Homo sapiens: one gene and its partners. The protein of the gene in region 2 purifies or fractionates together with the protein of the main gene of each other region. This does not show direct contact. Each region holds a gene or a part of one and is shown on either strand. Other genes may lie near its edges.

What was found. The genes of interacting proteins can lie anywhere in the genome.
Region 1: the proteins of PROK2 (region 2) and HAPLN3 purify together in Homo sapiens (affinity purification with mass spectrometry; one large-scale study listed by BioGRID and IntAct). This does not show direct contact.
Region 3: the proteins of PROK2 (region 2) and LRP1B purify together in Homo sapiens (affinity purification with mass spectrometry; one large-scale study listed by BioGRID and IntAct). This does not show direct contact.

Annotation. Positions count from the first base shown.
Region 1 is NC_000015.10:88,885,545-88,889,044, reverse strand, and holds part of HAPLN3 (hyaluronan and proteoglycan link protein 3 isoform 2 precursor), read left to right. Parts: exon of another isoform or gene 1-1,619; intron 1,620-1,699; coding exon of another isoform or gene 1,700-1,746; coding exon 1,747-1,870; intron 1,871-3,500. UniProt on the Homo sapiens protein: May function in hyaluronic acid binding.
Region 2 is NC_000003.12:71,782,349-71,786,445, forward strand, and holds the start of PROK2 (prokineticin-2 isoform a precursor), read right to left. Parts: upstream 2,801-4,097; 5' UTR 2,705-2,800; coding exon 2,609-2,704; intron 1-2,608.
Region 3 is NC_000002.12:140,234,517-140,238,016, forward strand, and holds part of LRP1B (low-density lipoprotein receptor-related protein 1B precursor), read right to left. Parts: intron 369-3,500; coding exon 270-368; intron 1-269. UniProt on the Homo sapiens protein: Potential cell surface proteins that bind and internalize ligands in the process of receptor-mediated endocytosis.

The sequences.
Region 1 (3,500 bases), on a different chromosome or scaffold from region 2:
CCATCTTCTCTGAGTGCCTCCCATTGGCTCAATCCCACTGGAAGCCAGAAGGCCTGGGGAACTGGGACAACAGGGACCAATACGTGTCAGAGAAGGACAGACGATGGACCTGGTGGGTGTGTGGGGCAAATGGAGGACCTCCTGTATACCCCCAGCACCCCCAGGCTTGGGACTCTTGCTGGCATCTGCACCTTTGTAGTGGCAGTGCCCTACTGGATAAACCTGTCAGTCCTTCTCCACCTGGCAAACTCCTGCATCTTCAGTCTCATTTGGACATTCCCGTTTCTGTACCTCCATCGTGGTACTCAACACACAGCAATCAAGACTGCCTGCCCACGACTCTGCCCCCTCCCTGGACCAAGCTCCTTCAAGGAGTGACCCCATCTTTTAATTGTTGAGAGCACGCAGTAAATGGCAGGTGAGCAGGGCTAGGGTGACATGAGTGAGGCAGTAGCCCTTGGTGTGAGATTTAAGCGGGGGAGGAAGGGAGTTTGCTAGAAATCTTAGTAATCAAGACAAAATATTTGAATACAATATTTAAAAAAAAATCAAATCATCAAACTACAGCCCATGGGTTGGCTACCTCTTTTGAGCGCCCACCCAAACTGGAATAGCTCCCAAGACCTCTAGCATGGTGTTCAAAAATTATTTTTGAGTTGGGCGCAGTGGCTTATGCCTGTAATCTCAGCACTTTGGGAGGCCGAGGCGGGCTGATCACTAGGTCAGGAGATTGAGATCATCCTGGCTAACGCGGTGAAACCCCGTCTGTACTAAAATTACAAAAAATTAGCTGAGCTTGGTGGCACGCACCTGTAGTCCCAGCTACTCGGGAGGCTGAGGCAGGAGAATTTCTTGAACCCAGGAGGCGGAGGTTGCAGTGAGCAACCTCCACTCCAGCCTGGGCGACAGAGCGAGACTCTGTCTCAAAAAAAAAAAAAAAGGGTTCACAATGCAGGACTCATCTTTACTTAACATACCCTCTATTCACCCTGATATTTTCTATTCTAGTCTAGTTTATTTGGCGTCATTAAAAAGTGCTGCTCATACCTTTCTTTTCTTTTCTTTCTTTTTTCTTTTTTTTGAGATAGAGTTTCACTCTTGTTGCCCAGGCTGGAGTGCAATGGCATGATCTTGGCTCACCACAACCTCTGCCTCCTGGGTTCAAGCGATTCTCCTGCCTCAGCCTCCCGAGTAGCTGGGATTACAGACATGTGACACCATGCCTGGCTAATTTTGTATTTTTAGTAGAGACGGGGTTTCTCCATGTTGGCCAGGCTGGCCTCAAACTCCCAACCTCAGGTGATCCGCCCGCCTCAGCCTCCCAAAGTCCTGGGATTATAAGCGTGAGCCACCATGCCCAGCCTGCCCATAACCTTTCAAATTCTGGCTTGAAAAACATTGAGCCTGTCATATCATCCTGCTTAATTTTCTCTGCTTTTAGCTGCCTGATACTTCCTTCTTATGATTTGTCTCTTTGCTGATCTCCCGTCTTGCCTTCGGGGTACAGCTCCCTGAAAGCAGGAACCCCATCTAGCTTGTCACTGCTGTCTTCTCAGCTCCGGGAACAGCGTCTGGCACGTAGGCGGCAGGTGTCCCGCAGTGAGCTGTTGAGCAAGCGAGTGAGTGGTGTTGGAGCAGAGGGGATGTGGGCCCTGGAAGCCAGGCTTTTCTAATTGCCTTGTTTTCCTCCCCTTCCCAGTTTGCCCTGGGGCCCCAGCCTGGCCCGGGTCACCCTGGCATGAGGAGATGGGCCTGTTGCTCCTGGTCCCGTTGCTCCTGCTGCCCGGCTCCTACGGACTGCCCTTCTACAACGGCTTCTACTACTCCAACAGCGCCAACGACCAGAACCTAGGCAACGGTCATGGCAAAGGTAGGCGACCTCCTGCACCCGGCTCTTTGCTCCCCTGGGTGACCTAGACCTCCTTGGCTCTTGCTGTGATCTGAGGGTTCCAGGCTGGGACAGGGACAGCAGCCCTGTTCCAGCAGGGCCCTTGTAGTGGGCCAGCTTGCTTCTCAGACAGGGGAAGGGGTGAGTTCATTTTCCTGTGTTCGCCAGCCCCTTCGTCATGGGGCCCAATTCACTTAGGCTTTTTACTTTCCCTAAAAGTCTTGCCAGTTGTTCAAGGTCCAGCTTGAATGTGTCCTCCCCTGGTCCCCCCAGTGGAAAGGGGACCTGGGGTCGAATAGATGTGAGTTTGAATGTTTTTTTTGTTTGTTTTTGAGATAAAGTCTCACTCTGTTGCCGAGGCTGGAGTGCAATGGCACGATCTCGGCTCACTGCAACCTCTGCCTCCCGGGTTCAAGCGATTCTCCTGCCTCGGCCTCCCGAGTAGCTGGGATTACAAGCATGTGCCACCATGCCTGGCTACTTTTTGTATTTTTAGTAGAGAAGGGGTTTCACCATGTTGGCCAGGCTGGTCTTGAACTCCTGACCTCAGGTGATCCACCTGCCTCGACCTCCCAAATTGCTGGGATTACAGGCATAAGCCACCATGCCTGGCCCGAGTTTGAATCTTATAATTCTACCTCTTACTAGCTGTGTGGCCTTGGGCAGGGAACGTTTTAAAGTAGCAGTTATTGTGCACCCAACATGGGTTGGGCGCGCTTCTAGATATTTTGCATATGTCGTCTCCTGTAATCACAAAAGCCCTGATGTAGGCAAGGGTGAAAATATACCTTTTTTTTTTTTTTTTTAAGATGGAGTCTCACTTTGTTGTCCAGGCTGGAGTGCAGTGGCGCGATCTTGGCTCACTGCAGCCTCTGCCTCCCAGGTTCAAGCGATTCTCCTGCCTCAGCCTCCCAAGCAGCTGGGATTACAGGCATCTGCCACCACACCTGGCTAATTTTTGTACTTTTAGTAGAAATGGGGGTTTCTCCATGTTGGCCAGGCTGGTCCTGAACTCTTGACCTCAGGTGATCCACCCGCCTCAGCCTCCCAAAATGCTGGGATTACAGGCGTGAGCCAACGAGCCTTGCCGAAAATACACATTTTTAACCATTAGTGCAGCACGGGTGCTGACCAGGCTGAATTGATGCTGTCTGCCCTCACAGCCTGAAAGTAGATTCTATTATCATCCCTTCTCATAGATGAGCAAACTAGGCTCAGAGAGTTGATCCAGTTGTCCAGGTCAAACAGCTATTAAAAAGACAAAGCTGAGGGCTGGGTGCAGTGGCTCATGCCTATAATCCCAGCACTTTGGGAGACTGAGGTGAGTGGATCACTTGAGGTCAGGAGTTCAAGGCCAGCCTGGCCAACATACCGAAACCCTCTACTAAAGATACAAAAAATTGGCCAGGCGCGGTGACTCACACCTGTAATCCCAGCACTTAAGGAGGCCGAGGTGGATGGATCACGAGGTCAAGAGATCAAGACCATTCTGACCAACCTGGTGAAATCCTGTCTCTACTAAAAATACAAAAGTAGCCGGGCGTGGTGGCAGGTGCCTTTAATCCCAGCTTCTCAGGAGGCTGAGGCAGGAGAATTGCTTGAACCTGGGAGG
Region 2 (4,097 bases):
TTAAGAAATGCAAGTAACAGGTGCAATTGTCAATAGTAATTACTCAAGTCACCTGCTTTCAATATAAAAGTTGTAAATACATACAATGAAACAATCAACTATGGAGGAATTTCCATACTCTAGTAAATAGAAATAAATAATAAAATCTAAATCTATTTGCATGAAAATGGATCTGAAGAACTATTATTCTTTCCTAGAACCAACAAAAAATAGAATGCTTTGTTTGAACCGTGGGCAGTAATCTGTTTTGGTAGTGATAAGATAAAAACATCCTGTACTATATATGTAAGAAACTAAAACCTCTATCATCTAGGCACAAATTTAAATGTACAATTAGTGGAAACAACTAAAACAGTCCTTCAAAATTCTTAGTTTTGAGGACAGTCATAACTTCTCAAGATATAAAAATATGGGTACATTCTTAACATTATTTCTCATTAAAAGTAACCAACTATTTTGCTTTAAAGTTCATTTACTTCCCTCATTAGAATTTATTTCTCAGTCTATTTAAACAAAGTATCTGGATAAAAGCTAAAAATTTCACCTTGAGGTGTTTGGATTTTATAGGACAATATGTAAATGTTTCAATTTTCCAATTTTTATCTGCATGCCAGAAATCATGTATATGTAGCCATTACATCCCATAAATAAGATGTCTAGTCAATGATCTTTTACAATATAGTTTTAACAAATCTATGTGGGCATATAAATCAATTTCAAAATACCTACATACACTACCCAAAAAACTGTGGATGTCAGGTGAAAGTTTTAGCCAGCATTTTATTTCAACAGATGCTCAATACCTCGAATTTTGAGGCCCCATGAGCTTTTTTTTATGAACCAATCAAAAATCCAGCCAAAATCTTTTAAAATTCAATCACCTGGATGTTTAACATGCTATACACAATGTATCTTGATAAGTTACTGAGTTTTTCATTTGAATCCAGATGGTTCCTGTCATGGAGACATAACTACATTTTATTGCCCTGTTGCTTTAGAGACATTTTTAAAATTCTCTTTTTGTAACACTGAGTTAAAATAACAACAACAAAAACAGCACACATAACTATATAATAAGCCCAGTCTAAGCCTCTCTAACAGATAGACAGCCAATGTGATAAAATTTTATTTTGTAACAAAAGCTTCAGTTCTTGGAAAATTTACAAAGAGTTGCATAGGTTTATATATTTTTAATTAGACAGCTGTTTCCTAATGCCCTTCATCCTTAACCCATTGCAAATCTATTCAGATAGTGTTGTCCTGTGAATGGAACAAAAAGATACTTATATTGCAAAGGGATCTTGGGCTCAGAGGATTAGGAGAAACTTTAAATGAGCCAGCAGGAGAAGAGGGAGAAAAAAATCCAATCATGTTTCAATTCTCATGTATTAGAAAGACCTGCAAAAAGTTTTTCTCAACCACATGGACTGGCAAAGCTATGCAAGTAATTTTTTGAAAAAATCTCTTTTCTAATAAATATCACAGAGCTTACAGTTAAATATCTGTTGGATATATACAAATGCTGTCATAGCAAAAGGACTTTCAAAATTCTATAAACCTAATAACTAATATAGAGAAAATAGAGCTTGATTTTTTCAAGACAAAGATACTTCCTTTAAAGTCAAATGATATTATCTATGTATCAACATTTCAAACATAGACGTTTTATTTAAATCCCATTATGTGCACTTAAATATTTGAAGTAATTTAATGAAGGTGTGAAATAATTCCTCACTTAAAAAACAGTAAAGAAGTTGAACAACCAGGAAATGATAGCAGTTTTGCCTTGTTAATGTAAACTAGACTATTTAGTATTGTACTGCAAACCCAATTTTTTCAGATCCACACAAAATTGTTGAGAGTGGGAGAGAACTGAACTAGTTCCTACTTACAGAAAAGATGAAAACATCGTCTCTAAGTTTAAACATCTACACAGCAACCTACTCCATCATTATGCTGGAGCACTGGAGGTGCTTTGCCAGGAATTAGAAATTTAAAACTTTTATGGGGATACCTCAAGACCCTGAGCGCGGGGGAAAGCCCCGGAACCCAGAAGGAAGCTCCCACAATTGCTTTTCAAAGCGCTCACATGGCCCTGGACCAAGCGATTTCAAAGGGTTTCTGCGGAGGACGCATCGGGGAGCAAACTCTTTGACTGTAGGATTAAGACTCTGGGCACTTGGGGAATTCGTCTTGGTCCTTTGCATTTCAGGAAGGGGCCGTCAAATTTTAAGGTTCGAGGTTGGAGAGCCTCCAAAAGTACTTGAGAAGACTCAGAGAGAAACTTCTTTCAGCCTAACAGAAGAAAAATGCGAGGAGTGAGGCCGTGGGTGATGAGGGAGAAGTAAGCGGGAGAAGGTGGTAATAAAGGTGGTGGGCGACATCCTTGTCACTGTTTCTTCCAGGACGCGCCCAGTGTCCCCAGCCGTCTGCTGCTTTTGGATCTGGGTATTTTCCCAAGTGCACCAAGGGGCGACAGGGGCAGGTGTCCCCGCCCAGGGCGACCCTCCCTTTGCCTCTAGCCTGCCCTTCAGGGTCCCCGTCCCAAGCCCCCTGGGCACATCCCAGGCGCGCATCAGGGGCAGACAGGTGCGCCCGGGCCGCTTACCCCGGTGATCACGGCGGCGTCCCCAGCGCGGGGCGTGAGCAGCAGCGGCGGCAGCAGCAAGAGGAGCAGGAGTGGGGCGCAGCACAGGCTCCTCATGGCGCCCTCGGGACTGGGCGGCCGCCGGAGGCAGTTGGGGGCGCGGGGCCCGGGTGCGCTGGGTGGAGCGCGGAGCGGCGGGCGGACGGGCGCGGCGGCTCCCGCGAGCCTCCGGGCCGTTATAAAGGCTAGCCCCGCCGTGACTCACGCCGGCGCCCGCCCGGCAGCACACGCGGGGGGCACGGCGCGGGCACACACCCCACGCCCCACGCGCACACGCGCGCCCGCCTCGGCCCGGCCGGCTCCCAGACGAGCACGTGCTATGCGCGGCCCCCCGCGCCCCCGCCTCGGGCGCCACGCAGGCAGCGCTCCCGGCGGGGCGCCCCGCTCTGCGCCGTTCCCTCCGCCGTCGCCCAGCCACCGCCTTTCGCACGCGCCGGAACCGCTTTTGTGGTCTCCGAGACACTCATTTGCTGTCCTGGTTTCCAAAGCTCCACGTGCTCAGCGCCGAAAACTTGCAAATCATTTGCTGTACAGATGTTTAGGGGTCGCCTACTACGTGCGGGGCGCTGTGGACACATAGGGGGCGGGGGGTGGGTGAGGGGGACACAGCAGCCCCTGAATCCATTCGTTTGTTCAGCAGGTCTATACTGGGCGCCCGCTGCGTGCCAGGTACTGCCACCGGCTCTCTCCTCACGGTGGAATAACTTAACAGAGAAGACAGACATCAATCAAATACCCTGGAAACGTGGAAGGCAGGGGAAAGAACAAAGGGAGAGCAAAATCGCCCCAATCCCACATCACCCGCGACGTGAAAGGATTTGTCCTTCCAGCTGCGGGACTCCTATTTGTTTATTTCAAGTCAGAGGCCTTCCCTTTATGCCCACATCTGTTCCCGACCCTCTCCTCTGATTTTCCTCACATGTATTTCCTCCCCTCTTCAGCCCCGCGCCAGCTCCAGGCACAGCCGTTCAGGGTGATGCCAAAGGGAAATGAGAACGCCTGGTTTCGAGTGCCAGCCTGAGGCCCCTTAAGCCCTAGGTACGCAGCTCTCTCTTCTTTCTTAAACTTTCCAGCCCAGGAAAATCACCCTTCGGTTTTACAGATGCGATAGGGCGTTATTGTGATTCCTTCATTCACGTAAACATGAATTGAGTGTCTAGTGGGTTCCAGGCACACCAGGAAAGAATAAGTGACAGATTTGCCCTCCATCTCTCATCCTAGCCTGGCTCCAAAAACTGCAGCCTGTTTCCCTCAACAAAAATGACGTCAAGAATACCTAGATGTGACCACACCGAACTTGCTTGCCCGTTTTGGGAAACCCAACTTTCTTCCTGAATAGTCAGAACCTCTGGCTTTCCTGGTCTCTTAAGAACCGCAAACTATTGAAAAGCAGATGCGTCTTTCAGCCTCTTTAATAAATGCAGTAAGGAGAGTTGGGACAGAGTTACTT
Region 3 (3,500 bases), on a different chromosome or scaffold from region 2:
AATACTCATGTTCACTGTAAAGGGACAATAACATTTCCAAATCCAGTAGAAGAGATATTTCTACTTAATGGCTTGCCTAAAATAATGTTTTAGATGTAATCTTGCATAGACAGGACACATAACATAAGCCCCCAATTTAAATGCTATTTTGAAATCTCTTGTTAATTAAAAACTTAATTAAAAACAAGCCTCTAAGTCTAGTAATTAGTCTTTGATTGTGAGGGTTCTGTGATGAAACGGACATGAAATAACGAATATTCTTCTCTCACCCCAGCAGTTAGTGGTCCTTTCAAATCAGAGTTTAGGTAGATGGGCGGCGCTGTGTGTGGAAGCTTGAAAGCACTGGGTCCTCCCCCTATGTACCTGGCCTGTATATAAACAGAAAATTTTAGTTTCTGATCTAATATTATAGAATCACTTTTCATCGATACATATCATGTTAATTCATAAAAATAACATAAAAATACCCTTTAGCCTTACACCATTTACAGTGTGTTCATGTTAGCTTTAACAACTTAAAACAACTTAAAATATCCAATATTAATATTATTAAAGATCCAATATTAATATTGGATCTTTGCTTCATAGGTAGACATTTCTCTCACAAAAGTCTTATTCAGAAAATATAAAGAATAGTCCAAGTAAGAATTGGCATGAATTTGAAGATAAAACTAGTACATATTTATCTCTTTTAAACTCTTCAAACTGTTCTGTGGTTACCCCCATAGTCAAATCAATTTTATTAACTGCATTAAGTACTTTCAATCCTTTTGATTATAAGATACCATTGAACTAGAAATTTTACCCTCTTTGAGAATAACAGAAATGAGTGTTCTACAAAATTTTTCTTCACATGTAATGTAATTTATACTGATTGCACCATGCATATATCAAACGCTTGTAACAAAGTGAATGCTCTATAAAATTCATATGATTATTAAGGTTGCTTCAATATGGCCCTTTGTTTCTCACTACTGTCTAAACCTATTAGAACTAGCTGTTTTTTTCTGTAGTTACTCATTTGACAACAATTCACATTTATATTCAAATATCAGGATCCAGATAGAATCAGTCATCTAAGTCATATTTGATGCAATTTTGGTTATTCAGTCATCCAATTGGTAAATATTTGAGTATTATGTTCTAAGTACATTAAAATATATTTGGGGGCACTGAAACATAGTTTTATCTTCCTAGAGTAAATGTGAAAATTTTTGAATGTGTAAAAAGCTATTCTCTTTAAGTGTACAAAATTGGATTAATTCTATCACTAGAAATAAAAATGATGAGGAAAAAATAACCCTCCTTCATATGAAAAATGTGTAAAGTATATCGTCATTAGTCTGTTATATGTATGAATACTATATTTTTATTCCTAAGAAAAATGCAAAGAATTTCAGAACTCTATTATTTGTCTTTCTCCTTCATAGATATAATAGATTATCAATAGCAATGTGTAAAATATGTATCATGTCTCCACTTCTGTGATATTTTAAAGCAGAAAATATCAAATGTAAGGTTACCAAGACTTTTTCCTTGAAAAATTTCAGATGTAGGAGTGAATTTTAATAACTATAAAATTATGTCTAATTAGAAAAATATAATATTCTCTGATAGTACACAATGTATCCATGTGAAAAGATTGATTTTCATAGAAGTGAATAGTTGAGCATCAATTTTAGGCTTAGAAAGCCTAATCATGGGTTCAGAACTAGACTGAATATGTGGGATCCTATTCAGATTCTTCAGGAACACCAATGACTGTGATTGCAAAATAATTTGAATGTAGATTGGCCACATTGGATATTTACAATGTAAAAGTGCATTTTGATGAAGTAACTTTTGTAAGTCAGAAAAATAAATAACTATTCAATAAATAAGTGAATAAACCAAGAAAAATTGTTTCATAATACTAAATTGATACTCTTAATTTAGAGAAAAAATATTCTAAAATTATCAGAAAGAATATTCAGATAATTCACTGAAGTAAATCTTCACAACTTTAACTGGATAATTGTATCATTTAGCTATTTCCCTTAAAAGTTGCCAACCTCAGCTTATAGTAATAAAAACTAACAAATATTTTTAAATTTAAAAGGCTGTGGATTGTCAGGCTATATGTATCAATGAAATGTTTTAAACTAGTAAGGATATTATGACAGATAGAAAAATATTTCTCAAAAGTGATTTAATTACAAAGAAGTCCAAGGACACAGCTTATCTGGCTCATCATTTAAACATTATTGGAAACAACATACTTATTTTGATAATAAAGTACTGTACTCTTTTATATTTAAAAAATACACTGACCAAGATTTTTACACTAAGCTGTGTATCTAGATTTGCTAATACCTCAACACATTTGATTAGAGCATTATTTTACATGAATTATACATATTTATGAGATACTGTGTTTTGTTATGTTTTTATACATGTATACATTGCAGAAAAAATCAAAGTATTTAGCATATCTATCACCTCATACATAGTTATTTTTTTGTGGCGAGAACATTAAAAATCCTTTTCTAGCTATTTTTAAATATACAATACAATATTGTTAACCACCATCACCTAACTGTGCAACAGAACACCAAAACCCATTCCTCTTATCTGACTGTGACTTTGTACCCATTGAACAACACCTATTTTCCTTCCTCCTCCCCTCTCCACCCTCTAGTAACCACTATTCTACTCTCTACTTCAATATTAACTTCTATAGATTCACATGTGAGTGAGATCATGTGGTATTTGTCATTCTGTGCCTGGATTATTTCATATATGACAATATCATCCAGCTTTATCCATGTTGCCTCAAATGACAGGATTTCCTTCTTTTTTATGGCTGAATAGCATTTTCTTTATTCATTGTTGATGCACACTTAGGTTGATTCTATATCTTGGCTATTGTGAATAATGCTGTAAAAATCATGGAAGTACAGATATCTCTTCAATGTACTGATTTCCTACTTATTATGTATCAATTAAAACAAAAAACATTAAAAGAAGGATTCCATGTCTGAAGTGATGAAAACAAAACTATCTTGTAAGTATCCAGTTCCTACCAAACCAAAACCCCATAGAACCACACTGTAAGGAATACTGGGAGGAAGTGGGTAGAAAAGAAAATGTCTCACCAAACTACTTTTCAGCCATATTTCTAGAAGCTGTGCATGTATTGGTCTTCTCCTTGCATATATTTCAACATTGAAAGTCAGTAGCTTTACTTTATAATAGACCTTTATCTATCTATATATCTATCTATCCCCTGAAGAAGACCTAAACAATTTGCTGTGTGATATCAATACTAAAACAATTTTTAAATGAGTTTTTCGTTTGCTTTATGTAAACAAAATTAGATAATGAATCATTTTTCAATAAAAAACATATAAAAACATGTTTATAAAAGAACTGAGCAAATAAATATGTGTTTTCTAAGATGTGTTACACTCAGCTTCAGGTGAATGCAGTCCATAATTGTACTTTCTCTTTAGAAGAGGCTA